Linked DNA regions of Homo sapiens: regions 2 and 3 are each linked to region 1. Evidence: fine-mapped expression QTL. A gene starts in region 1. Each other region holds a variant in brackets. All regions are shown on one strand. Distances are between the middles of the regions. Region 1 holds the start of DGCR2 (DiGeorge syndrome critical region gene 2). Region 2 overlaps DGCR2 (DiGeorge syndrome critical region gene 2). Region 3 holds the start of ESS2 (ess-2 spliceosome associated protein).

The links.
Region 2: its variant is fine-mapped to the expression of DGCR2 in atrial appendage (GTEx, PIP above 0.99).
Region 3: its variant is fine-mapped to the expression of DGCR2 in atrial appendage (GTEx, PIP above 0.99).

What each region holds. Positions count from the first base shown.
Region 1 is chr22:19,118,960-19,126,959 of GRCh38, reverse strand. It overlaps DGCR2 (DiGeorge syndrome critical region gene 2), which reads left to right and starts at 4,548. Exons shown (of 10, transcript NM_005137.3): 1 at 4,548-4,832. The coding sequence starts at 4,754. It also overlaps the pseudogene TSSK1A. RefSeq lists silencers at 4,224-4,663, 4,784-4,903 and an enhancer at 4,688-5,189.
Region 2 is chr22:19,034,263-19,042,262 of GRCh38, reverse strand. It overlaps DGCR2 (DiGeorge syndrome critical region gene 2), which reads left to right. Exons shown (of 10, transcript NM_005137.3): 8 at 304-456; 9 at 969-1,205; 10 at 3,142-5,977. The coding sequence ends at 3,398. It also overlaps the pseudogene CA15P1. Among named protein-coding and RNA genes, the nearest start is that of FAM246C, 8.7 kb to the right of the region's middle. RefSeq lists an enhancer at 4,971-5,591 and a silencer at 6,075-6,244. The variant G/A (reference allele first, on the strand shown) is at 3,879.
Region 3 is chr22:19,138,930-19,146,929 of GRCh38, reverse strand. ESS2 (ess-2 spliceosome associated protein) reads left to right here and starts at 2,279. Exons shown (of 10, transcript NM_022719.3): 1 at 2,279-2,424; 2 at 4,036-4,204; 3 at 4,297-4,392; 4 at 6,906-7,075; 5 at 7,201-7,318; 6 at 7,638-7,771. The coding sequence starts at 2,290. RefSeq lists an enhancer at 2,704-3,210. The variant T/C (reference allele first, on the strand shown) is at 3,583.

The DNA of each region.
Region 1 (8,000 bases):
TTAAACCACGTGGAAGGGGGCTGTGAGAACATGAGGAGGCAGGTGGACTTGGGGAAGAGCGCAAGGAGGGCCAGTCCAGGCTCTCACTAGACCCTACTTCTCCAAGGGGACTGAGGTTGGGGTCTTCCCGAGGTAGAGAAGTGACCATAGGTAGACTGTGGACAGTGATCATCGATGTTGCTGGCAGTGGAGCTCCTCTGCTCTGACATTCTCTGTGTCCAGCACCTGCTTCAGGCCCCGCCCTGGGGGAGTGGGAGTCGCATGACAGTCCTAGCCTTGGGTTTGACTTTGGCCCCATCCACTTAGAGGCCATGGGAGAGGTAATTCTGAAAGCGCTTGTCCTTTGTGGTTGCCTGTCGTATCCTACTTGCCAGTGTCAACTTCTAATGCAGGGGTGTCGTCCCTTGGGACAGGCTGGGACGGGGACAACAAGATGTGGTCAAGACCACACAAGACTGTGGGACATGCTCAGGCTGGAGTGTGGCTGGGCCATCCAGCAGAGCCTCCTATTTCTCCCGGGCTAGAGAATGACCACAGGGTGCGGCGACCCCGGCACTGTTGAAAGCTGGGTGCTGGCTGGACACAGGGGGCCTCTGATGGACAGAGCACAATGAACGAGTTGCCCAGCAGGGTAGGGAGCTCAGGAGTGGCTGAGAGGCTGGCCACCTGCCCTCTGCAGCCTCCCACAACCCCCACTGGCAGCCTTGTGGGGCTGGAGAGGTCTGCCCAGACCCTCAGTCCCAACTGCAGATAAAGCCTGCGCTCCTCTACAGGGGTACCTCGGCATGCTTCTTGGTCCTGTCCTCTCCCTGCCCTTTCCCGACCCCAGCACCGCACTTGGGGGCGTCCCTTCTGAGGCAGCGGCTTCCTCACTCACCTTTCAGCTCTGGCCCCTGCCCCTCCAGGTCTCTCCCAGCCCCAGCCCAAGCCCCAGCCCCAGCCTGGGCCTGAGGTCATGGTCTGGACTGGGCACGTTGGGATGTGTTTTCCCAAGCAAACGAGGAATCATTGCACAATCTGAGTGGGAAACCAGTGGAGGGGAGCCCAGGACTAGTCAGTTGAGGCAAAGACATTCACTTTGGCATCTGCATTAATATAGTGATTTATTGCTCCTTTAGCAATGTCGGTTATGAAGTTCAAGGGGAGAGAGAAGAAATTGATGAAAACAGCGGCTCATCCGGGACCGTCTTCCTTCTCTGGTTTGTGCCTTGACTTCTTCAGAGCTTGGGCCTGAAGGCGTGAGCTCCATCTCATTCGCCGCTGGCACACTGGGCCACAAACGGCTCACTAGGTGCGCATCTCTGGAGGCTGCTGGGGGGCCCTTCCTCTTTCTCCCTGGTCGACGGCTTGCTGGGGAAGCCTAGGATGTCCGACTGCCTGGACATTTGCATTGCCAACCCCTCAGGTTTTGTCTCAGGCTGTCCCTCGGGCTGTGTCTGTTCCCCAGGCTCCAGCTTGGTGGCAGACCTCTTGGCAGAGCCAGGTTCAGGGGTCCACAAGAGTTCAGTTCCCTGGGAGCTTTCCCCCTCCTTGTTGAAGACCATAGAGGGCAGTCCCTGTGCCTTGGGCTGCACCCAGCATTGGCTGAGGGTGTCATGGATGTGCAGCCGCTGGCTGACGTCGGGCTGCAGCATGCAGTAGATGAGGTCCTTGCACTCGTCTGTCAGGTTCTTGGAGTGTGGGAAGTCCACGCGGTGCTCCTTCTGGATACGCAGCATCTTCCTGATGTTGGAGTCGTAAGGCATGGAGCTGCAGACCATGATGTAGAGGATCATGCCCAGGCTCCAGATGTCATACACCATGGGCTGGTAGGGGATGCCCTGCAGCAGCTCGGGGGCTGCATATGCCACCAACCCGCAGAAGTTCTTGCTTAATCTCTGTTGGCCACTGTCATCCCGCAGGCAGAGCTTGGAGAACCTGAAGTAGAACAGCTTGATGTTGAAGTCCTTGTCGAGGAGAAGGTTCTAACACTTGAGGTTCTGGTGCATGATGTCCAGGTCGTGGCAGTATTTAATGGCTGAGGAGAGTTGGTGGAACATCTTGCACGCCATGTCCTTGGGCAGGGCTCCCTGGCACTCAATGAACTAGTTTTTTTTCTGCCCCTGGCTGGGCTCCCAGGGCAGATCTGGGGCTGGGGGCTAAAGGCGGGGACTGGATGCCACCCTGAGCACTGGTGGCTGCTCTGAGGACAGTACAAGCAGCAGGGGCAGCACTGGAGAGTGTGGCCATTGTTTTTTCTGGCAGTGGAGCCCCTCTGCTGTGCCAGGCTCTGTGTCCAGCACTTGTTCCGGGCTATGCCCTAGGGGAGTAGGAGTCACATGACTATCCTAGCCTTGGATTTGACTTTGGCCTCATCCACCTAGAGGGAGTGAGCACCCCTTTCTCACAGGAGCCAAGTGGAACCCTGGGCCCCTCAGGATGACTTGGTAGGGCGGGCTGGTTGTCACTCATGTTGGGTTGGGTCCCCACCTGCCGTGGCCCTTCCCCCTTTTCTCTGCTCCTTCACCTTCTTCCCTAACGCTGACTGCCCACTGCCAGGCCTTTGTGCATTCTTGGTTCTCCTCCTTCCAGACAGCCTCCTTCTCCTTCCCGCTGGGGACACCCCAACTACTGTCTCCTGGAAACCAAAAATAAAACTCTAACCCCCCAGCCATCTGAATGGACCCCTCCTCTCCACCAAGGGCATTCCAAACTTAACCTGAAAAACTATTTCAGGCCGTGATAGGAAGTGGGAGTCAGGCCTCATTATCCCTCCTCCCTTCAGGTTTCAGGCACAGCTAAGCAGTGTAACATCGACACAGAGACTTGAAGACTGACAACAGACTCTGTGGCAGTAAGATACCAGCATGACAGCAGGCCCGGAAGGAAACACATATTTTACTGCAAAACAGGTTTCTTTCACATATTTTGAAGTCGCTCTGCAAAGCTGTTTTTTGTGGGGAAAATCTACATTCTGTAGAGAATCCCTATCCCTTTCAAGGTCTTTTCTCCTGAGAGAATTAACTAGAGTCTGGCACCTTTTATTTATTTTTCCTTTTTTTTTTCCTTTTTTTTTTTTTTTTTTTTGAGACAGAGTCTTACTCTGTTGCCCAGGCTGGAGTGCAGTGGCATGATCTTGGCTCACTGCAACCTCTGCCTCCCCGGTTCAAGCGATTCTCCTGCCATCAGCCTCCTGAGTAGCTGGGATTACAGGCGTGTGCCACCACGCCTGGGTAACTTTTGTATTTTTAGTAGAGATGTGGTTTCACCATGTTGGCCAGGCTGATCTTGAACTCCTGACCTCAGGTGATCCGCCCGCCTTGGCCTCCCAAAGTGCTGGGATGACAGGCGTGAGCCACCACACCCGGCAGAGTCTGGCACTTTTTAATAAGAAACATTAACAGTCTTTTCTCTGTGAAGCCTGATACCTGGAGGCTTCATTTGCCTAAGAAACTTGGTCTCCACAACCCCTTAATGTAGACAGTCCCTTTTATTGATTCCAGGTCTTTAGATAAACTCTTTGAACCAACTGCCAATCCGCATGACCTAGAAGCCCCCCTCCACCCCCCACTTTCAAGTTGTCCCGCCTTTTCCGACTGAACCAATGTATATCTTACATGTGCTGATTGATGTCTTGTCTCCCTAAAATGTATAAAACCAAGCTGTGGCCCTACCCCCTTGGGCACTTGTCAGGATCTCCTGGGGCTGTGTCCCAGGCTATTGGTCACATATTGGCTCAGAAGAAATGTCTTCAAATATTTTACAGAGTTGGACTCTTCGCCGACACTGCCCTCCAAGGTTCACCCTGTTGGTGATGACGGGAGAAGTGGCACTTGGAGCACTGTTCGCAGGGGCGCTGAGCCTCCTCTCTGCCTAGCTTTCTTTCCTGCACATGTGGCCTTCCCCTAGCCATTGTGTAGGCAGGTCCTCCAGGGAGCCGGCTTCGCTGCAGTCTCCAGGACCTGGCCTTCCCGGTCTCTCTTTGCCTGACACTCTCTTAGGCCATTCCTGTTCCTCTTTCCCCACCCTCAGAACCGGCAGGCCCTCCCTCCTCCACAGCGGTTCGGCCTTAAAAAGACCCCTTTGGGGCGCACTTTTGGGCTGCTCACGGGACCTGAGCTTGCAGGTGTGAAGACCCTTGGAGTCCCAGCCAGGTTCCCACTTCGTTCTCTCCGCTCCCCACCCGCGCGACCCCTCGGCGCCCCGCCCCATGCCCCGCGCCTTTCGATGTCCATCCTTGCCGTCCCGCGCCCGCCGTCCCTAACCGGCGTCCAGAGACCCTACTCCCTTCGGTGGCCCCGCCGCTCAGGCCCCGGCCCCGGCCCTGCCTCTCTGCTTAACCAATGGCACGCCTCACTCCGTATGGTCCCGCCCTTCCCTTAGAGCCCGCCCCTCAGTCCCCGCCCTTAGGTCCCCGCCCTCCGCCGTCGCGACCTTAGGCCTCACCCTCTTCGGAGGGCTTTGGCTCTGGCCCCGCCCCCCATCTTGACGGTCATTGGCCCGCGCCTGCGTCGCGGGCGGGAGGCGGGGCGGGGCGGCGCGGCGCGGAGCCGAGCAGGACGGCCGCCATCTTGCGCGCAGCTGGAGTCGGTGCCTGAGGTTGCAGCCGAGAGTGTGCGCCAGCCCGCGGCCCAGCCGAAGCTCTTTCCCGCCGCCTCTCCGCGCCTCGCCCAGGTTCAGCTCCGCCTGACCCTCCGCTTGGCACGGTCCCCTGACCCTCAGTCCGGCCTGGTCCGGCCTTCCAGCCGCCCCGGGGACGATGAACGGAGGATAAATGGTGCCCAAGGCAGACAGCGGCGCCTTCCTGCTGCTCTTCCTGCTCGTGCTCACTGTCACCGAGCCGCTGCGGCCAGGTGCGCCGCGCGATGGGGGCGGTGTGGGGGCTGGGCGGCGAGCGGGGCCGGGGTCGCCCCGGGACCTCCTTTCACCCGCGGCGCCCTCCTGCAGGGGCCGCGCCTGGGGCAGGGGCGGGCGGGGCCTGGCTCGCGGGCCGCCTGGCACTCTCTGCGGACGCCTGCTGGAGCTTACCTGGGCTCGCGGCGCCTCGGACTTCGTGCAGCTCTGCTGTCCAGGATGTTGCCTCTGGGCCCTTCCCGGGAGCGGCGGCGGCCAGGAGCTACGCCACGGGCGCACCCTCTCGCCAGTCCAGCGTCGGAGTCGGGCTGGGGACAGTGGCTCTCAGGGGCACCTGGTTTCACAGACGTCCTCCCAGCAGTGGCCTAGTGCCAGCCTCTCAGTCCTGGAAACTCCTCGCCTGGACAGCGGTGGTTGTGGCTGTCATTCAGTGAGACGTTGCGCTAAGGAAGTCCTCAGGTCCCACCGGGCCTAGAGGAGGCACCAGGAGTCAGCCTAGCGTTGTGTGGCCGGCGCGAGCGTCCCGGGAGCAGAGACCTCGCCACTGTGCGGGGCCCTTAGCCGTGCTGCGTGTATGTGATGAATGAGTCCGTGCTTTGGAACTCCCCTCGGAGCTAGTGTGTTCTTAAGTCTGTGGTGGGGAATCAGAACCGTGGCAACCAGGAGACCCTTTTCTACCTATTTCGGTGTACCTCCCCTTGAACTGCACCAAAAAATCAAACTCCCTAAATGCAGGGCCGATGTATCCATCAGGCACAGGAATCCTGGTATCACTTGCCCACGGTACTTTTAGTAGCCTTCGAATGTTATTTTATTTTTTTTTAAAGTCAGCAGAAAAAAAATGAACTTTTAGGTCAAATAAAATGTTTTCGTATGTATATTAATACAGTCATCTTTATACTAATACAGTGAAAAAGCATGACTCTTAATATTTCTTAATGGAGGAAAGGTCCCATGAAGGCAGAAGTGCCAGGGCCATCTTCTCTGATGACCTGGGTGTGGGAGCACGGGGTGTGTGGCCCTCTCCTGTGCCCTAGCCAGGCTCCCAGCCCAGATACACCGCACCTCTTGGCTCTGCGCTTGTGTCATCTATGTGGAATGTCTGCCTCCTCCCTAGTGCCTGCCTGGTGGCCAAGGCCCTGACCGGTGCTCAACCTGGACAGATTCAGTGATGCTTCTCTGGTCTCCCCATGTAGAGCTAGTTGCTCACTGCTTTTGGCTGCTCTCTGGGCAGCGGGATGACTAGTTGTGGGGTGGCCTTGGTAAGAACAGAAGCCAGGAAAAGGGCTACCTGTGGAGGAGGGTATCATATAGGCTCTTGGAGGTCAGAACCAATGGGTTTGTGGATTCTTGTGATTAACTTCTTTAGAAAACATATATGTACGTGTAGAGAGGTAGAAGGTCACCGTTTTCTGATTCTTGAGTCCCAGTTTTGCAGATGAGGTCACCGGGCTCAGGTGAGGCCATATTATGCCTGGCTTCTTTGGGGTGCCTCTGGTTCCAGGCCCAGCATCTCCTGCCTGGGTGATAGAGGTGACTGACGTCCCCGACTCCTTTTTCCTTGCCAGCCTTTTCACATAGCCTGCCAACTGGCCAGCAGCAACTGAGAAAGTGCCTGTGGGTGCTTGCCCCCTGCCCATCCCTAGGGAATCCAAGTGACAAGAACAAGCCCCTCCTTTTAGGAGTGCCTGATGTGGAACAGAGGCCAGGTGTAAGTCACTTGTCACACTCCTGTGTGTTGAATACCCTGGAGTGTGGGGTCCCAGAGGTGGGTGGAGGTGGCCATCTTTTTGTACCTGTGAAGCAGTGAGGGCGTCACAGGAGACCTCACACTGAGGTCGGAGTAGGGCATGGGTGGGGTGGATCTGGTAGAGGGAGCAAACTTATTCTTTCGATTCCATGACTCTCCAGATGAGAACATTGCAGCTACCCCTGGAGGCGTCTTGAGTTGCCCTGCAGAACCCGGGAGCTGCAGCTGGCTTCCTGGCTTTGGCTGGGCAGGGAGGGCAGGCCTCTGGGCCTGATGTGTTCCTTGTATGCCCGTGTGTGCCTCTTCACACATTCACCATGTGTCCTTCCTGAGAGTGCTGCAGGGATCTGCCTGGCTGGTGCTTGCAAGAGGCTGGGGCTTCTCTGGTCTTAGTCTGCGTTCTTTCTGTGGGGATTCCGGCCTTAAAAGCATACTTGAGTATGAGGAAGGTATCAGTCAGAGCCCACTTCTCAGGAGGGTGTTTTCTGACTCCTGCCTGGTGGGGTCCCTGAAGATGATGCCAAGCCACCTGGGCTTCCTCTCTGGTACAGGGCAGGGTGGAAGGCCTTTCATGGAGTTATGGGGCAGCAAGTGCTTGCTGTACTTGACCTTTCACCAATTTTTTTTTTTTTTTTTTTTTTGAGACAGAGTCCTGCTCTGTTGCTCAGGCTGGAGTGCAGTAGCGTGATCTTGGCCCACTGCAACCTCCACCTCCTTGGTTCAAGCGATTCTCCTGCCTCAGCCTCCCGAGTAGCTGGGATTACAGGCATACGCCTCCACGCTCGGCTAATTTTTGTATTTTTAGTAGAGATGGGGTTTTGCCATGTTGGCCGGGCTGGTCTGGAACTCCTGACCTCTGGTGAGCCACCTGCCTTGGCCTCCCAAAGTGCTGGAATTACAGGCCTGAGGTACCATGCCCAGCAATTTTTTTTTAAGTGCACATTTGAACTTGATTTAAGATGTGTCATGTGCCGGACACTGTTCTAAGCACTAACATATGTTAACTCTCAAGAGGTCCCTGCTAGATGCTGTTTTTAGCCTCATTTAAAGATGGGGAAGCTGAAATCCAGAGCACTCATGAAGCTAAGGCTGAGATGAGATTTCATCGTAGGAGTCTGGCCTTCCCCCCATCATGCACCCGTGACTGGGGTCTGTGCACTCCAACTGTGTGTCTCCAGCCCAGCCACAGGAGTACCTCATATTATGCTCTGAACAGCTTCCTTAACCCCAGGTGGAGCCACAGACTGCCTCTGTCCCCTGTTAGGTCCCAGGGTCCTCTAGGTGAGGGTGCAGAATCTTTTTCCATGTGGATACTCCAGTCTGAGGGACAGAACCACTCACCCTCTGCCAAATCCCTTCTGTGTTTGGCCATGTGACCACTGATGATGTGTGTTATGATCACTGGGGGTGTGATGAG
Region 2 (8,000 bases), 85 kb after region 1:
GTCCTAGGACAGGAAATCCTAGTTTGCTCCGGTGATGGTCAGAGGGGTGTTGGCACACAGCAGCCTGGGGCCATGGTGAGATGCTCCTCCTGACCTGGGATTCGCTCTTCTGCTTCTGTGCTGTCACCATGTTCTTGATTTTGAGCGGCCTTATTTCACATGTATCCTAAAGATGGTTGGGTGCAGGGAGACACTGTGTGCCTTGTCCACACAGCCCGCCTGGGCAGGAGGACGACAGCATCCCCAGCGTAGCACGAGGGTGGCCCCCTTCTCAGAGCGGCCATTTCCTCCCCTCCCCCTCAGATGGCAACAGTCTGTTTGACTCCATGGCCAGCGGGATGCGCCTGGTCGTCAGCTGCATCTCCTCCTTCCTCATCCTGTCACTGCTGCTCTTCATGGTCCACCGGCTGCGCCAGCGGCGCCGGGAGCGCATCGAGTCCCTGATTGGAGCAAACTGTAAGTGCCCTCTGAGGGCCACAACCCTGGTCCCCATCCCCACCCCAGGTCACCCCATGTCTCCATGAGCTCCCCAGCCCTGGACAGAGAGGGGCAGAGGCAGGTTTGAAGGCCACATGTTGTGGGGTCTGTGTCCTCACCTGTGGGCCAGGAAAGTTCTTGCCAAGACCCTCCTTATTCCCATTGAGCCACAGGGTGGGCAGAACTCGGAGGCCTCTGAGGGTCAGAGGCCCGGATCACCCTTCCAGCTGGAGGGGTGTGGTCAGCCAGAGGCTGGGTCTGACAGAAGTGTCAGCCCAGAGGGACAGGTTGGTGTGGTGAGGGTGAGACATGCCACGGAGCACACCAGGGGTCTCATGGGGATGCCGAATGTGGCCGAGGGGTAGGCAGCGGGGCACAGGTGTGTGCACTCAGGGACGGCAGGCCCAGCCTGGGGGTGGGGGGCTCAGGAGCCAGGCAGCCTGCCCCCAGTGACTTGTCTCTGTTCCCGTTGCACACTTTTGATGGCCCAGTGCACCACTTCAACCTCGGCCGCAGGATCCCTGGCTTTGATTACGGCCCAGACGGGTTTGGCACGGGCCTCACGCCGCTGCATCTTTCTGACGACGGAGAGGGTGGGACTTTCCATTTCCACGACCCTCCACCTCCCTACACGGCATACAAGTACCCGGACATCGGCCAGCCCGACGACCCTCCGCCGCCCTACGAGGCCTCCATCCACCCGGACAGTGTGTTCTATGACCCTGCAGGTGCCTGACTCCCCAGGGAGAGGGAACACCTTGTCAAGTAACCTGGCACGTGGGGCTGAGCCCAGCACTCTTGCCCAGCTGCAGAGGCCTAGGGACCTCACTTCTTTCCGGCTTTGTCTTTGGTTTTTCCTTTAAGGCTTCTCCTGGGGCTGCCCGTGCAGAAGGGGTCCTGATCTCCCTGCCTGGCCGCCCTTGGCAATCTGTGCAGAGAGCTCTGAGAAGGCCTGGGACCCCTCCCTCCTACCTCCCTGCCTTCTGTGAGCACCTGTCATCTGGGCAGCCCTCAGGGCCCTCAGCCCAGCTCTAGAGACCTGGGGAGCCCGACAGTGGTGGTTGTGAAGACAGGGCTGGCCCAGACCCAGGAGCCAATCACTTGTCTGTAGACACATGAGCTAGAGACACCATGGTGACAGCCCCTCCTGTCGTGTCAGGAGGCAGCTCTGTGAGGTGGGAGGAAAGCGTGGCTTCTGTGCTACTGGCCCATAGTTGGAGCCTACCACCCATCTGAGAGTGGGCGCCATTCCTCAAGGCTGTGTAGCTAAGGAGTGGCAGGCCCCTGACCCCTGGCCTGTCTCTGTCTCTGTTGAGCAGTGCAGGTGTCCCATCCCATCTCCCTGTGCATTAGGCCCCCTAACACACACAAACCTGTAGTATATTTGGTAGGCAGTGCCACCCCAAAGTGGCTGGCTCCTTGCATGCCTGCCCATCTCGGCAGAATGGGCATTGTGAGGCTGGGGCTGCTGTGCCTAAAGGTCTCAGTCCTGTTCGTTTGTTTAGTCAGCTGCCACAGCTCTTGCATGATCTGGGGGTGCAGAAAAGACTTGCATTTGACCCCTGCCCTCATGACACAGATTGTCACAGTCTTCCAGGGTAGGACCAGCTTCCTGCAAGGGATGGTGGTGGGTGGCAGCAGATCCCAGACACCTGTGTGGGCCAGGCTGCAGAGCAGGGTGGGGGCTGTGAGGGGCTGGCCGGGAGGGAGGTGCATCACCGGGGCCTTGTGCTGTTAGCTTTCAGAGACAGCCTATGGTAATGACAAGCAGGCAGCCCAGGCGCAGTGGCTCACACCTGTAATCCAGCACTCTGGGAGGCTGAGGCGGGAGGAGGGGTCTCACTATGTTGCCCAGGTTGGTTCGAGACCAGCCTGTGAGACCTCCTTCTCCACAAAAAATTCAGAACTAGCCGTGCATAGTGGGCACAGCTGTAGTCCCAGTTACTGGGCAGGCTGAGAATGGAGGATCACCTGAGCCCAGAATTCAAGGCTGTCATGAGCCATGGTCACGTCACTGCACACCAGTGTGCAATCTTTTAAGATCCTGTCTCTTAAAAGAAAAAAAAAGCAAGTAATAAAGATCGGGCAAAACAAAGCGAGTCGACTGCCTACCACACAGCCTGCCTTGGATCAGAGCTTCCTGCAAACACCTGTGTGGTTTTCCAGGCCGCTCACTGCAGCCCTGTTGCCCACACTCCGGTTGCCACATTCCAGCTGCAGCCCTGAATGTTCTTCCACCCACCTGGGCCCAGTGCCTCCCTGATGACAAATGCCCCTGCCTTCTTGCTGAGCCGGGTCTTCACCTTACTGAGTCTGAGACGGTTTCCCTTTGGGCCCCTCTGTTCTAGTGACTGCTGGTCAGTGTGTCTCCCCTACCTCACACCGATGGTGGGACAGGCCCGTGTCTGCCTTTGTGAGATGGGCCCTGCACCTTGCATATACCAGGTTCCCAGCCACAGGGGGCAGTAGGTACAACAGGTGTCATGTGGGGCAGGCTCCTCCTTCAAAATCTGAGGCCCGGGGGAGCCACCCAGGTCCTGCTCACCACCCAGCTTCAGGGGGGCCTTCAGGCAGGAGGAGTGTCTCCTGGTTTTGCCTAGCTCCCCTGCATCCCCTGTGCCAGGCCCGTACCTGCCTCTGACACCCCTCTGTCTCTTCCTGCAGACGATGATGCTTTTGAGCCTGTGGAGGTCAGCCTGCCAGCCCCTGGGGATGGTGGGAGTGAAGGTGCATTACTCCGGCGCCTGGAGCAGCCTCTGCCCACTGCGGGGGCCTCTCTGGCAGACCTGGAAGACTCTGCCGACAGCAGCAGCGCCCTGCTCGTGCCCCCTGACCCTGCCCAGAGCGGGAGCACCCCAGCTGCAGAGGCACTGCCAGGGGGTGGCCGCCACAGCCGCAGCTCCCTCAATACTGTGGTGTAGACGGCCTGGCCTGTACCCCAACGGTCTGGGAGCACCTGTCTGTTGTAGAAAACACCGGTCCCTGGGGAGACTTGAAAGGCCCCTGTCCCAGCCTGGACGCCACGCACTGCCGCACGTCACTGGCGGGCTCGCGTGTGTACATAGAGACCACAGCCCGCCTTCTGCCAAAAGAAGTGATGGCCTGCACCGAGCTTCCTTGAGGGCTTCAGAAACATGCATAGCTTTGGATCACTGTCTTCTCCTTTATAAATGGCAGAAGAGTGACAAAATTCATTCAGACCGCACATGTTAGAGGCAGGGAATGAAGAAGGTACTGTGGGCCATGGCCACACCTGATGCGTTTTTGGTGGGCTTACTTGGTGCAGTGTGCTGTCCAGAGAGACCTGCTGACCCAGTCTGGGACAGGCACAGTGGGAGCTGCCACAGTGCCCCTTGCTGGCCGCCCTCAGGAGGGGGCCTCTGGACCGTCAGTGTGGCGTA[G/A]GCAGTGGGTCTGCTTCAGGGAGGCAGCCTCTTGACTTTGTCACAACGGTTGCACTGAAGATGGCCCCCACAAGCCCAGTTGTGAATATCAAGGTGACCCTGCCCCTGGCTGGGAGCTCCCCTGGGGCTCTGGAACCTGAAGCCCTGAGAAGGAGAGCTTGGAAGGAGGTTGAGCTCTTCACTGTGTCTTTCCATCTGGGCTCTGCAGCCCAGCTCTGTGGCAGGAGGCCTGACCCCACCCCATCAGTCCCTCTCCCAGCATTGCTGTGCATGGCTCCCTCAGGAAGAAGCTCTGGAGTGGGGCCGAGGCCCCAGATGCTCTGCTGGGGTCTGGGGACTGAGCTGCCTCCTGTCTCTCCACTCTGGAGCCCTGGGCTCTTGCCTCCTGTTGAATTGCCCCTGGGCCTGCCCCCGGCCCCATTTGTGCCATAAAGGGTTGCTTCATTGCAGGAGGGGTGGCTGAAACCACCATCCTGGGCTGCATCTATCTCCTTAAAGTCCACTCCTTACATCACCGCCACTACTGCAGCTCAGTGCCCAGCGGCCGCATGCACACCTCCCGGCCCCTCCTCAGCAGCGCAGGGGCTGGGGGCCCTTCCTGGCACCCTTTTGCCTGACGGACCCTGTTGCCTGCTCCTGGGCAGTGGTTTTGTTGCCTGACACAGGGCCTTTAACATTTCTGAGGTTTGGAGATTAAGCGGGTTCTGTGCGATTTTTAGCACATCCATATCTTTTCTACGTTGAATGTCTGGATCTTTCCTTTGTATGTTTGTGTCTCTGTGTGTGTATGTGGCCAAGCGTCTGCAGGTGAGGGTGGCACATGGAACTTCACGGGTCACTGGGGGCCCACTCTTCCAGGGTCATCGATGCATCCTGGGCTGTGCTGAGGCAGTGCTGTCTCGCTCAGTCTTTCCAGACCAGCGGGGCAGCACCTGGGAGGCCTGTCTGAAGCATGCAGTTCTGTGGTGCTGCTCGGGGATGGACTCCATGCACAGTCCACTTCTTGACACATTCTCACACTGTGGCTGGAGACCCATTTTTTCCATCCCATGTGGAATGAGAATCTTGAGTTGCCCACAGACAGACTTGACCTTTGTGCCAGAACTGTCCAGAGCTGTGAGTTTTGTTACTGAATTGCCTGTCCCTGAGCTTGGCCTGCTGGAGCATGATGCTGGAGGCTGTGTGCGGGCAGGCTTGTGCTCCCCTTGGAGAAGGGCTGCTACTTAACAAGGAAGTCCTGGCCACAGGAGTCCCCTACTGGCTGCAGAGGACGAAGCAGGAAGCATGCCGTGGATCCCACATGCACTGGGGCAGGGCAGCCAGGTTCCAGAGCAGCAGGCATGTGCATTATGGGTGCCAGGTGGCCAGTGAGGGCCCGAGGACCACGCAGCAGAGTCCCCCACGGGCCTGAGCCTGAGAGCTCAGAGGATTCCTGCCAGGCCTCAGAACTGTGTGTGCGGGACAGGGTGGCTGGCACGAGATGTGTGGGACTGGGACGCTTCCTTTGGGGACCAGAGGAACATTAGGGGCCGGTCAGACACGTAGGGGGCAGTGAGGAAACGGGGTAAAGTGGACCATGCAGGCTGCAGAGGGTGGGCCTTGGGCTGGCCGGGGTTGCTGGGTGGCCCCTTCCCCATGGGCCTCCACAAGCACTCAGGCCACTGGCACGTTGGGCCAGGCAGAAGGTCCACATGGCAGGGCTGCCTGGAACACCGCTGCCACTGTGGCTCCAGGAGGCCCTTGGGAGCATGAGGAGAGCTGGACTCGCTCATCTGTTCTTGCACCACCATCCAGAATGCCCCCTTTGCAAGGCCTGCTGCAGTCCCCAGTCTGACCAGCAAGTCCCGGGGTCACCCTTGCTGAACCTTGTGCTCCAGGGGTCCTCCTCCTCTAGGACCAGCTTGCCACGGTTTCTCAGAGCCCAGGTGCCCTCTGACCTGCCATGCGGAGGTGGGATTTGATACTGTACATTGTCTTGATGCCTGTTTTTTTATGTTTTCATTAAGGGTTTTTAGTTTTTGGTTGGGTTGACACTAACTTTTCTTAAGATGCTGTGAGAATCATTTCATCCAAATGCCAAATAAACTTGTGTTCCGGAAGAGGCATGGTTAGTCCTTGGTGTGGCCCCCACGGCTGCCACAGGCTAAGGTGGAAGAGGCTGGGTACCCACCTTTCAGCAGAATGCACCTAGGGTTTGCAGCCCTTGCAGGCGTCCATCAAACCCCCTGAGGACCAGGCAGAGCTGAGCCTGGAGCCCCTAGGTGGAGTGTGCAGGGAGAGCAGCAGCCCTGAGCTGCCTACAGCTATCCTGCAGCACCCAGCCCTGCTTGGGGCATCGGCTGCTGCCTTGGCAGGTGTTGCTGACGTGCACAGGATCCACATAAAGGCAAGGCTGCTTGACACCATCTGGGAGCTAGCATGGGACGGGGTGGTAGGGCAGGGCTTGGAACCTGGCCGTCAGCGCCATTTCCTCTAAGCTCCCCTCATCATCCGGGTGGCTGGAAACAGCCCCTCCCTCCAGTCCAAGCCACCTAATGTTACAAAGTAGCCTAGGTCCTCTGGGGCCTCTTCACTCATGTCCAGCAGTGCCATCTCTAGGTCTCAGAGGGTAGTGGGCCCAGGAAGTGTGATTGCATGCCCTGCTCTGGGGGCACTCCAGATGTGTATACTGGGGGGACGTCCTGCGGCCGGACACGAGAGGAGTCAGGGTTAGGAAAGGAACTGGTAAGTCCCTTGGCAGGGATGGGAGCCTCGAGGATGTGGCCCCTCATTTTTTATCCCATCTGCTGGGGCAGGAGTGGAGTGGTGGTGTTGAGTCCCGAGCACACAGGTCACTGTCAGCACTCTGGACAGAGCCCCGAGCCCTGCCTCTGGGTAGGGGCTGTCTTCCCATCCCCAATGTGGGTAGGGCCCTGCCCTCTGGCGATTGGAAAGAGGCGCAGGGTGCAAAGAAGTCCCCTCCTCTGACCTCCTGCAGGGCTCCGTCTTGGCCTGGATCCGCAGGGGGGCCTGGGTAGGAGGGAGGCTGTGGTCTTGGGATGGGGTGGCAGTTCCGGGCCCACAGTGGGGCAAGAGACATCCTACACCTTCCTCCCATCCTTGCCCCGAAAGTCATGGGCACTGGGGTCCAAGGTGCCCTCACTATTTGACCTTTCTTGCTGGTGGCTTTGGTGTGTCATTCTGGTCCCCAGCCTCTGTTTCCTGGACTGTAAGTGGGGATAATAATAGGTCACCCCTCCCCTGCAGGATTAACCTCAGCGATTGTTGCTGGCATCAGTGCAGCCCTGGGACCAGAGCACACCTGGGTGAGTTTGGAGCGCTCGCGCTCTTCCTGGTGGCCCTGCCTGGGCACCGACCCCTCCCATCCTCTCCTCAGTAGCCACGCCCCTAGCCCAGCTAGCTAATGAATAAATATGTAGTAGCCAGGCCAGCATCCTGGCTGCGTGGTCTAGCCACTTTCTAGTCCTTCCTAGCTGCGGCTGCCACTGAGCCACGCACGCCCCTGGCATCATGCTCGCCTTGCGGTGCAGCTGGTGTGGCGCAGACTCTGAGAGTGAGCACCAGGACTCTTCCTGTCTGGCCTCCAATCTACCCTCTTGCCATGCTCCACCACCCCTTAGGTCTTGCCACTGGGAGTGGGGAGGGACTGGGGAGAGAAAATACTGAGGTAGGGGTGACAGGAGAGAAGGTTCTTCACTGGCCTCCCCTGGCCTAAACCCCTGACCTACTTCATTCTTGGACCCCAGCTGATGGGATGGGGCTTGGAGAGGGCCCAGATGACTGGCCTCTCAGCTCAGCCTCCTGCCCACTGTCTCTATAGGTGCCTGGTGCTATGACTCCCAGGACCTCAAGTATGGTGAGGACAGAGTGTCATGTGAGGCTGTGTCAGATCAGTCTGTGTCCTGGGACCACCAGAGCATGTGCCAGTGGTGCAAGAGTGGCCAAGAGACAGTCTGCACCCTGCACTCTGTGGCCTTTGCAGGTTTCTGTCTGTAGTCGTCTGCCCCAGTAGACTGACTGGGCATCAGGTGCAAGTGCGTGACTGTCCCCCTGTGTGTGAGTCTGGGCCTGCTGTGATTGCCGGTCCCGAGTCAGTCAAGGCTGGTGTGCCCGTTACTGTGG
Region 3 (8,000 bases), 20 kb before region 1:
TCTAATCTTGTCCACCTGCACCACACTGGCTCTGCTTTTTTGTTTGTCGGTTGGTTTGAGACAAGGTCTCGCTCCATCACCCAAGCTGGAGTGTAGTGGTGCAATCATGGCTCACTATAGCCTCCAGCTCCTGGGCTCAAGCGATCCTCCCCCATCAGCCTTCTGAGTAGCTAGGACCACAGGTGGGCACCACCACACCCGACTAACTTGAAAAGTTTTTTGTAGAGATGAGGTCTTGCCATGTTGGCCAGGCTGGTCTCAAACTTCTGACCTCAAACTATCCGCCGGCCTAGGCCTTCCAAAGTGCTGGGATTATAGGCATGAGCCACTGTGCCTGGCCTGCCCCTTCAATTCAGAATGAAGACAAACCACCTCACCATACCCTACAAGGCCCTGTGCAGCCTGGCCCTGCCTCTCTGGCATCATCTCACACCTCACTGCACTCTGCATTTCCAAAGGACTTCTTTAGAACTTGCCTTGCTCCCTCCCACCACTAGGCCTTTGCACATGCTCTTTCCACCTGACTGTTGCCGGTTTGTTCGTCTTTTGAATCTGCAATCACTTTCTGCCTGGGGAAGCTTCTCTGACCTCCCGAACTAGGTCAAGATTCCCCAAGTACAAACTCTTTTCTTGCACGGACACAGCTGCAATTTTACACCTGTTTGTGTGATGATCTAACAAGTGTCTCTGTCTTCCCCATTGCACTGTCACTTCTACAAGGGCAGCAGCAGCACGCTGCACTTCAGTGAATGAAGGTATCCCTGTATGTTGCAAAAGCAAAATTGTATTAAATTGTTCCAGGGCGGAATTTATTTGTCCAACACAATTCACATCTTTCGTTTGGGAAGAAATTCCTTAAAAATGCCGAGGCAATTTTCTGGTTCACTTGAATATTAATTTTTTTTTTTCTTGACAGAGTTTCACTCTGTCACCCAGGCTGTAGTGCAGTGGCACAATCTCTGCTCACTGCAGTTTCCACCTCCTGGGTTTGAGTGATTTTCCTGCCTCAGCCTCCCAAGTAGCTGGGACTACAGGCACCTACCACCACTTTGTATTTTTTTTTTTTTTTAGTAGAGTTGGGGTTTCACCATGTTGGCCAGGCTGGTCTCAATCTCCTGACTTCAAGTGATCCACCTGCCTGGGTCTCCCAAAGTGCTGAGGTTACAGGCGTGAGCCACCGTGCCTGGTCTTGAATGAGAATGATCCCTCTTCTGGGAAGCCCACTCTGGCATTTGGGGGCCCAATAATCTTTTTTTTTTTTTTGACAGAGTTTTGCTCTTGTTACCCAGGCTGGAGTGCAATGGTGCAATCTCAGCTCACTGCAACCTCCGCCTCCTGGGTTCAAGCAATTCTCCAGCCTCAGCCTTCCGAGTAGCTGGGATTACAGGCGTCCACCACCATGCCCAGCTAATTTTTTTGTGTGTTTTTAGTAGAGATGGGGTTTCATCTTGTTGGCCAGGCTGGTCTAGAACTCCTGACCTCAGGTGATCCGCCTGTCTTGGCCTCTCAAAGTTCTGGGATTACAGAATAATCTTTAGACATTTCTTAATCGAACCACTGTCTTGTTCTTTCACCTTTTGTTAGATAACTATAAAAAAAAAAAAAAGATTGTTTTGGCCGGGTGCGGTGGCTCACGCCTGTAATCCAGAGACCAGCCTGACCAACATAGAGAAACCCTGTCTCTACTAAAAATGCAAAATTAGCCGGGCGTGGTGGCCCATGCCTGTAATCCCAGCTACTCGGGAGGCTGAGGCAGGAGAATCCCTTGAACCCGGGAACTCCGGTGAGCCGAGATCATGCCATTGCACTCCAGCCTGGGCAACAAGACCGAAACTCCGTCTCAAAAAAAAAATTGTTTTAAGGCCCTTTTCTTGCATAAAGCTTGAAACTCCTATATAAGTAAATTTCCTGGTTTGTATTTTTGTAGAATAATCTCGAAGCATACATAGTTCTTATTTGTGGGAAATTAGAATTCTAAGGCCTTTGGACGCTGCAAAGCCAGAATTTCTCGCGTGAAGAACACGCCCTATAGCATCCTCCCCGCCACCTCCACAGCACCCCCTCGTGTTCACAGCATTGACAAGCATGAATAGCGCGGGGCAGGACAAGGACTACATTTCCAATAAAGTCTAGCATTTATAGTGACGTCAGAACGGAGCGCGGGCTGGCTTTCTAGAGCCACAGCTTTTCCATTGGCCAACTATTGGAGGCGCCTGCGCAAATGGTGCAGTCCCGCCCCCTCCACCCTGTGACGCGCCTGCTGGGCCCGAGCTTTTTCCTGGGATAGCGATGGAGACGCCGGGCGCATCAGCGTCGTCCTTGTTGCTTCCCGCCGCGTCCAGGCCCCCGAGGAAGCGCGAGGCGGGAGAGGCTGGGGCTGCGACGAGCAAGCAGCGGGTCCTGGACGAGGAAGAGTATATCGAGGTACGACCTCGGTGCGGACGCCGGCGACTTCTGGGCCCATCCTCTGCTTCAAGCTCCTCTCAGGTTCCCTCTCTCGGGTGTTGACACTCCGTCTCCTCGTGGAAGTGGAGGAGCCGGGTGTGGACGGTCCCACGAGTCAAGTAAACAGGGCAGAGGAAGACGTCTGTGGTGGAAGAGGCTGTAGTAGTGTTGTCAGGGAAAAGAGAGAGCGGCTCTCTTTGTATGGGACGGGGGTCAGGGAAAGAAGATTTTCTGTTAAAGTGTGAGTAGGAGTTTGACAAACTGGAAGGATGGTGGCAAAGAGGGCTTTCTAAAGAGCGGTGGCAGCAAGTGTGAATGCTGGGGTTCCTGGAAAGAGACCGCAGTTGTGACAGCATCTCGAGTGAGTGGACCTGCGTCGCCCCACCACACGCACACAGAAGGAGGAGCTGAAACGGGGATTGGCGGAAGTCAGTTTGGTTTTAGACCTGTTTAATTCGGGACACCTTTTGGGATATGTAGATGGATGGCTTTAACGGACGGTTGGGTGCCCAGATATGCAGCTCGGGAGCAAGGTCTGGCTGGAGGTGCAGACTTGGGAATCTCAACTTGTGGTAGTGACTGGCTGAAGTTACTCAGGAAAAAGGTTTATTTTTATTTTATTTTTTGAGACGGAGTCTCGCTCGTCGTCCAGGCTGGAGTGCAGTGGCGCGATCTCGGCTTACTGTAACCAACCTCTGCCTCCTGGGTTCAAGCCATTCTCCTGCCTCAGCCTGCCGAGTAGCTGTGACTACAGGTGCCCGCCACCACGCCCGGCTAATTTTTGTATTTTTAGTAGTGGTGGGGTTTCACCATGTTGGCCAGGCTGGTCTCGAACTCCTGACCTCAGGTGATCCGCCCGCCTTGGCCTCTCAAAGTGCTGGGATTACAGGCGTGAGCTACCATGCCCCGCCAGGAGAAAGGTTTAGATTGGAAATAGAAAGTCATGTGTGGAATGAAAGTGACAACACCCACATTGGTCTGGCTTGTGGGGAGCCAGCAATGGAGAATGAGAATGACCAGTTAGCAAGGGCGAGAGAGAAGGGTTTCACGGACTTCAGAAGAGTGTTTAGTAATGTTAGAGGTTGCAGCATGGCTACCATATGGGATGCTCAACCCCACTAGAAAGTGCCCTCAAGC[T/C]CCCTCAATCCAGCCCCAGTCATTGGGGAAGTAGAATTTGAAGGAGGTTCAGCAAGTTCCTTAGCATGTACAGCAGTGGACCTGTGAGGCAGGAGCACCCAGACTGCAGCTCCGACTTTCTTTTTTCTTTTTTTTTTTTTTTTTTGAGACGGTCTCGCTCTGTCGCCCAGGCTGGAGTGCAGGGGTGTGATCTTGGCTCACTGCAACCTCCGCCTCCCGAGTTTAAGCGATTCTTCTGCTTCAGCCTCCCACGTAGCTGGAATTACAGGTGCCTGCCACCACGCCCGGCTAATTTTTGTATTTCTAGTAGAGACTGGGTTTCACCATGTTGGCCAGGCTGGTCTTGAACTTCTGACCTCATGATCCACCTCCCTTGGCCTCCCAAAGTGTTGGGATTACAGGTGTGAGCCACCGCGCCTGGCCTCTGACTTTCATTCTGATCTCTCCTTGCAGGGCCTCCAGACGGTCATCCAAAGGGATTTCTTTCCTGATGTGGAGAAGCTCCAGGCACAGAAGGAGTACCTGGAAGCCGAGGAGAATGGAGACTTGGAACGGATGCGCCAGATTGCCATCAAGTTTGGCTCTGCCTTGGGCAAGATGTCCCGGGAGCCCCCGCCACCCTGTATGAGGACCCTGTGGGTGGCGGAGAGGGGAAAGCCTGCTGAACTGTCGCTTCAGGCTCACTCTAATTCTTATCCCCCTCTCTTCCCCTAGATGTGACTCCAGCCACATTTGAAACCCCTGAGGTGCATGCAGGCACTGGAGTGGTGGGCAACAAGCCCAGGCCCCGCGGCCGAGGCCTGGAGGATGGTGAGTGAGGGTGCCCTCTTTAAGTCACATGGTCAGGATTGCCTGGGAATCTTAGCCTGTGAGGCCCTGAGGGGGTGGTCCAGAGGGCTGCAGGCCACATCTTGTTCCTGAGGGGTCTTGCGTAAATAGCAGCCTGTGAAGTCAAAGGACATTGGTCTAGGTGGTAGAACATCTGGGTCCAGCTCCCACACATGGCTCGCCTCTGTGAAATGGGACTCTCACCAGCTCTTGCTGGCTTTTCTGCTGTGTTCCAGCCCTGCCCTGTGGGCTTCATGGATGTTGGAAGGCCCCTTTTGTTACTATCCTGAAGATGCCTCAGGGCCTCTCCATTTGTTTCCTTCATGTTGGTCACTTCCCAGATAACTGCATGGCTCACTGTGTTTCTTCCTGTAGATCTCTGCATAGGTGTTACCTGTTCAGAGAAACTTTTCTTGACCTGCCAGTGTGAAGTCACAACACCACTGGTGCTCTGTGGCTTCCAGCCTGGCTTTGGTTTTTCATCACAAGACATTTTATTTTATTTAATTTCATTTTATTTTTAATTTTTTGACACAGAGTCTCGCTCTGTCACCCAGGCTGGAGTAAAATGGTGTGATCCCGGCTCACTGCAACCTCCACCTCCCAGGTTCAAGCAATTCTCCCTGCCTTAGCCTCCCAAATAGCTGGGATTACAGGCGCCTGCCACCACTCCTGGCTAATTTTTGTATTTTGTAGTAGAGACGAGGTTTTGCCATGTTGTCCCGGCTAGTCTTGAACTCCTGACCTCAGGTGATCTGTCTGCCTCGGCCCCCCAAAGTGCTGGTATTACAGGTGTGAGCCACCGCGCCTGGCCAAGACATAACGTTTTAAAGGCATTTCTGTTTATGGTCTCTTTCCCTAATTGGCATCCCTTGCACAAGAGCAGAAGCTTTGTTTTGCTTTCATCTGTATGCTCCGTGTTGGGAACAGCACATGTGGTGTTGTGGGCCTTGCACAGATACACATGGAACAGATGAAAGAGTTGTCATCTTCAGCATGTTTGCTGGGACACACAGCTCTATATGGTAACATCGTGACTTGATGGGGGAGTCGGTTTAGGAAAGGGCACTCCGAGTCCTGTTGAATGCAAGTGTTCTGCACGCCATGGGACTTCTGCGTTGTCAGGCCCTCTTTTCATCAGTAGTAGAATGTCAGTGCATGTATAGACAAACGAGACACTCTTTCTTATCAGTTTGTAGACTCCACTGTGCTGGAGTAGCACAGATGTGTTGTGTGTTTGCACAAACATGCAAACATGATACTTTTTGCTTTACAATCCAGCTTTTTCGGCCATTAACACAGTCCTTGTTGTCCTTGAAGCTTGATTATCTGTTGAAATGTAGCTTGTGCATCACAGGGCAATTTGTAGATTTTTTTCTTCTCCTTTTTTTTTTTTTTCCTATAGAGATGAGGTTTCATTATGTTGCCCAGGCTGGTTTTAAACTTCTGAGCTCAAGTGATCCTCCCACCTTGGCCTCCCGAAGTGCTAGGATTACAAGTGTGAGCCATCATGCCTAGCCAGTTTGCAGATTTTCAATACCTGTACACCTACATGCCAGTAAATATAGGAATCCTTTTCAGAACCTAAGTGGTAGGAACCATCATCATGTTTACAGGTGAGGAAACTGAGGCTCAGAAAGGCAGTCACTTCTGCAGGTCTCAGAGATGGTCAGGGTTTCACTTCTTATCTCTCTGAGATGAATAGAGTTTCTGACCCCTGTCCTCATCCCGTGGGTCTTGAGCTTGTAGCCACTGTGCCTTGTGCATAGCCTCACGTGTAGCAGGTGGTCAGGACTGTCACTAGACTTGAAGGCAGAGCTCTCCAGGTGGCCCCACCGAAGTTTGCACCACCACACGCAGCACCAGGGCACCACCTCAGTGGGAGTACCACTTTCCATGGTGGCAGGGTTGGTCGGAGGGGGGGGTGTTTGGGGTTGTGGCTTAGCACCTGTGAGGCCCCATCCAGAGGACTAAGTCATATGAGATCCCTGGAATTGGGGCTCGCTCTCAGGTCAGGATGATTAGGCGATGACCACCCACCTGTAGTACAGGTACCAGGAAGAGAAGAGTGGGTAAGGTAAGGAAATCCTAGGGAGTGAGGGAGAGCCCCAGGGATTTGGAGGCCTGGCACCCACAGGCCTGGCACCACTTTGGTGGGGGAGGAGCCTGCCTGTGATCACGAGCTCTTGCTCTAACACCTGTATTGCTTTCTCCAGTCTGAATCAGACCACGTAATTCCCTTGGCATCCAGCACATGAGCAGAGCTGGCCCTGAATCTGTAGGGTACCACCTGAGGGCTCTCTGGGCAGTCAGGGTGGGTGGATTCTGCCCCCGTGGGGAGTCCTTGGCAGTGTGGGCTTTCATGGGCAGAAGCCAGGACCAGGGGAGAGGATTCCAGCCCTGCATGTTGGGGGCTATGATTCCTGGGCCTGGGTGTCCTCCTCTTTCCTGACTGCAAAGGGTGCTGTGTTCCTCCTCCCGCAACCCCTAAGCAGGAGAGGCTGGAGAGGAGGAGGAGAAGGAGCCGCTGCCCAGCCTAGATGTCTTCCTGAGCCGCTACACGAGTGAGGACAATGCCTCCTTCCAGGAGATCATGGAGGTGGCCAAGGAGAGAAGCCGGGCACGCCACGCTTGGCTCTACCAGGCTGAGGAAGAGTTTGAGAAGGTGTCTCTGGGGTCTGGGGTGTCACATAGGCGTAGGCACCCTCTGTGGTGGTTGGGGAGCCCCAGGGCCATGGGTACAATGCCCAGGGGCATCTCTGACCATCACTTTTCCCCATGTGATTGCAGAGGCAGAAAGATAATCTCGAACTCCCGTCAGCAGAGCACCAGGCCATCGAGAGCAGCCAGGCCAGTGTGGAGACCTGGAAGTACAAGGCCAAGAATTCCCTCATGTACTATCCAGAGGGTAAGTGGCGGGCCTCGCAGCCAAATGGGGAGGTGTTGGGTAGAGCTGTGTGTGTCTGGCTGTGTTTGGAGCAGCCTTCCAGGTGTGTATGGCCGTGCCCCCTTGCAGTTTGGGCTTCTGATGGGTACTGGTCTGTCTAAGGGTGGACAGGTCTGTGTGAGGTCAGCAGTGAGTGAGACCCTCTCCAGCGGCACTGGGGCCTGCGTTCTGCTCAATGCTTTTGTTCATCTGGGAGTGACTTGGCCGAGAAGCGAGCTCCTCATGCTCCTTAGGCTGCTGCCCTTCTGACACCTGCTGCTACCTTTGCTTCGTCTGCCAGGTGTCCCTGACGAGGAGCAGCTGTTTAAGAAGCCCCGGCAGGTGGTACATAAGAACACGCGCTTCCTTAGGGACCCCTTCAGCCAAGCCCTGAGCAGGTGCCAGCTCCAGCAGGCAGCCGCCCTCAATGCCCAGGTGAGCAGGCGGGTCAGCAGGGCCGCATGGGCCAGGTTGGACAGGGCTGCCTGGGGGCAGGCATGATCTCTCCCATCTCTTTGAGCTTGGCAGAGCTCAGTGAGTGGAACCATCTGGGGCCCTGTGCGGCAGGATCCTGAGTCTTTCCTTGGCCCCAGTGGGCTTCCATTGAACACTGCCTTGGTCACACACGTTCTGTAGGTCCAGATCTGTGCCAGCTCCCTTGATG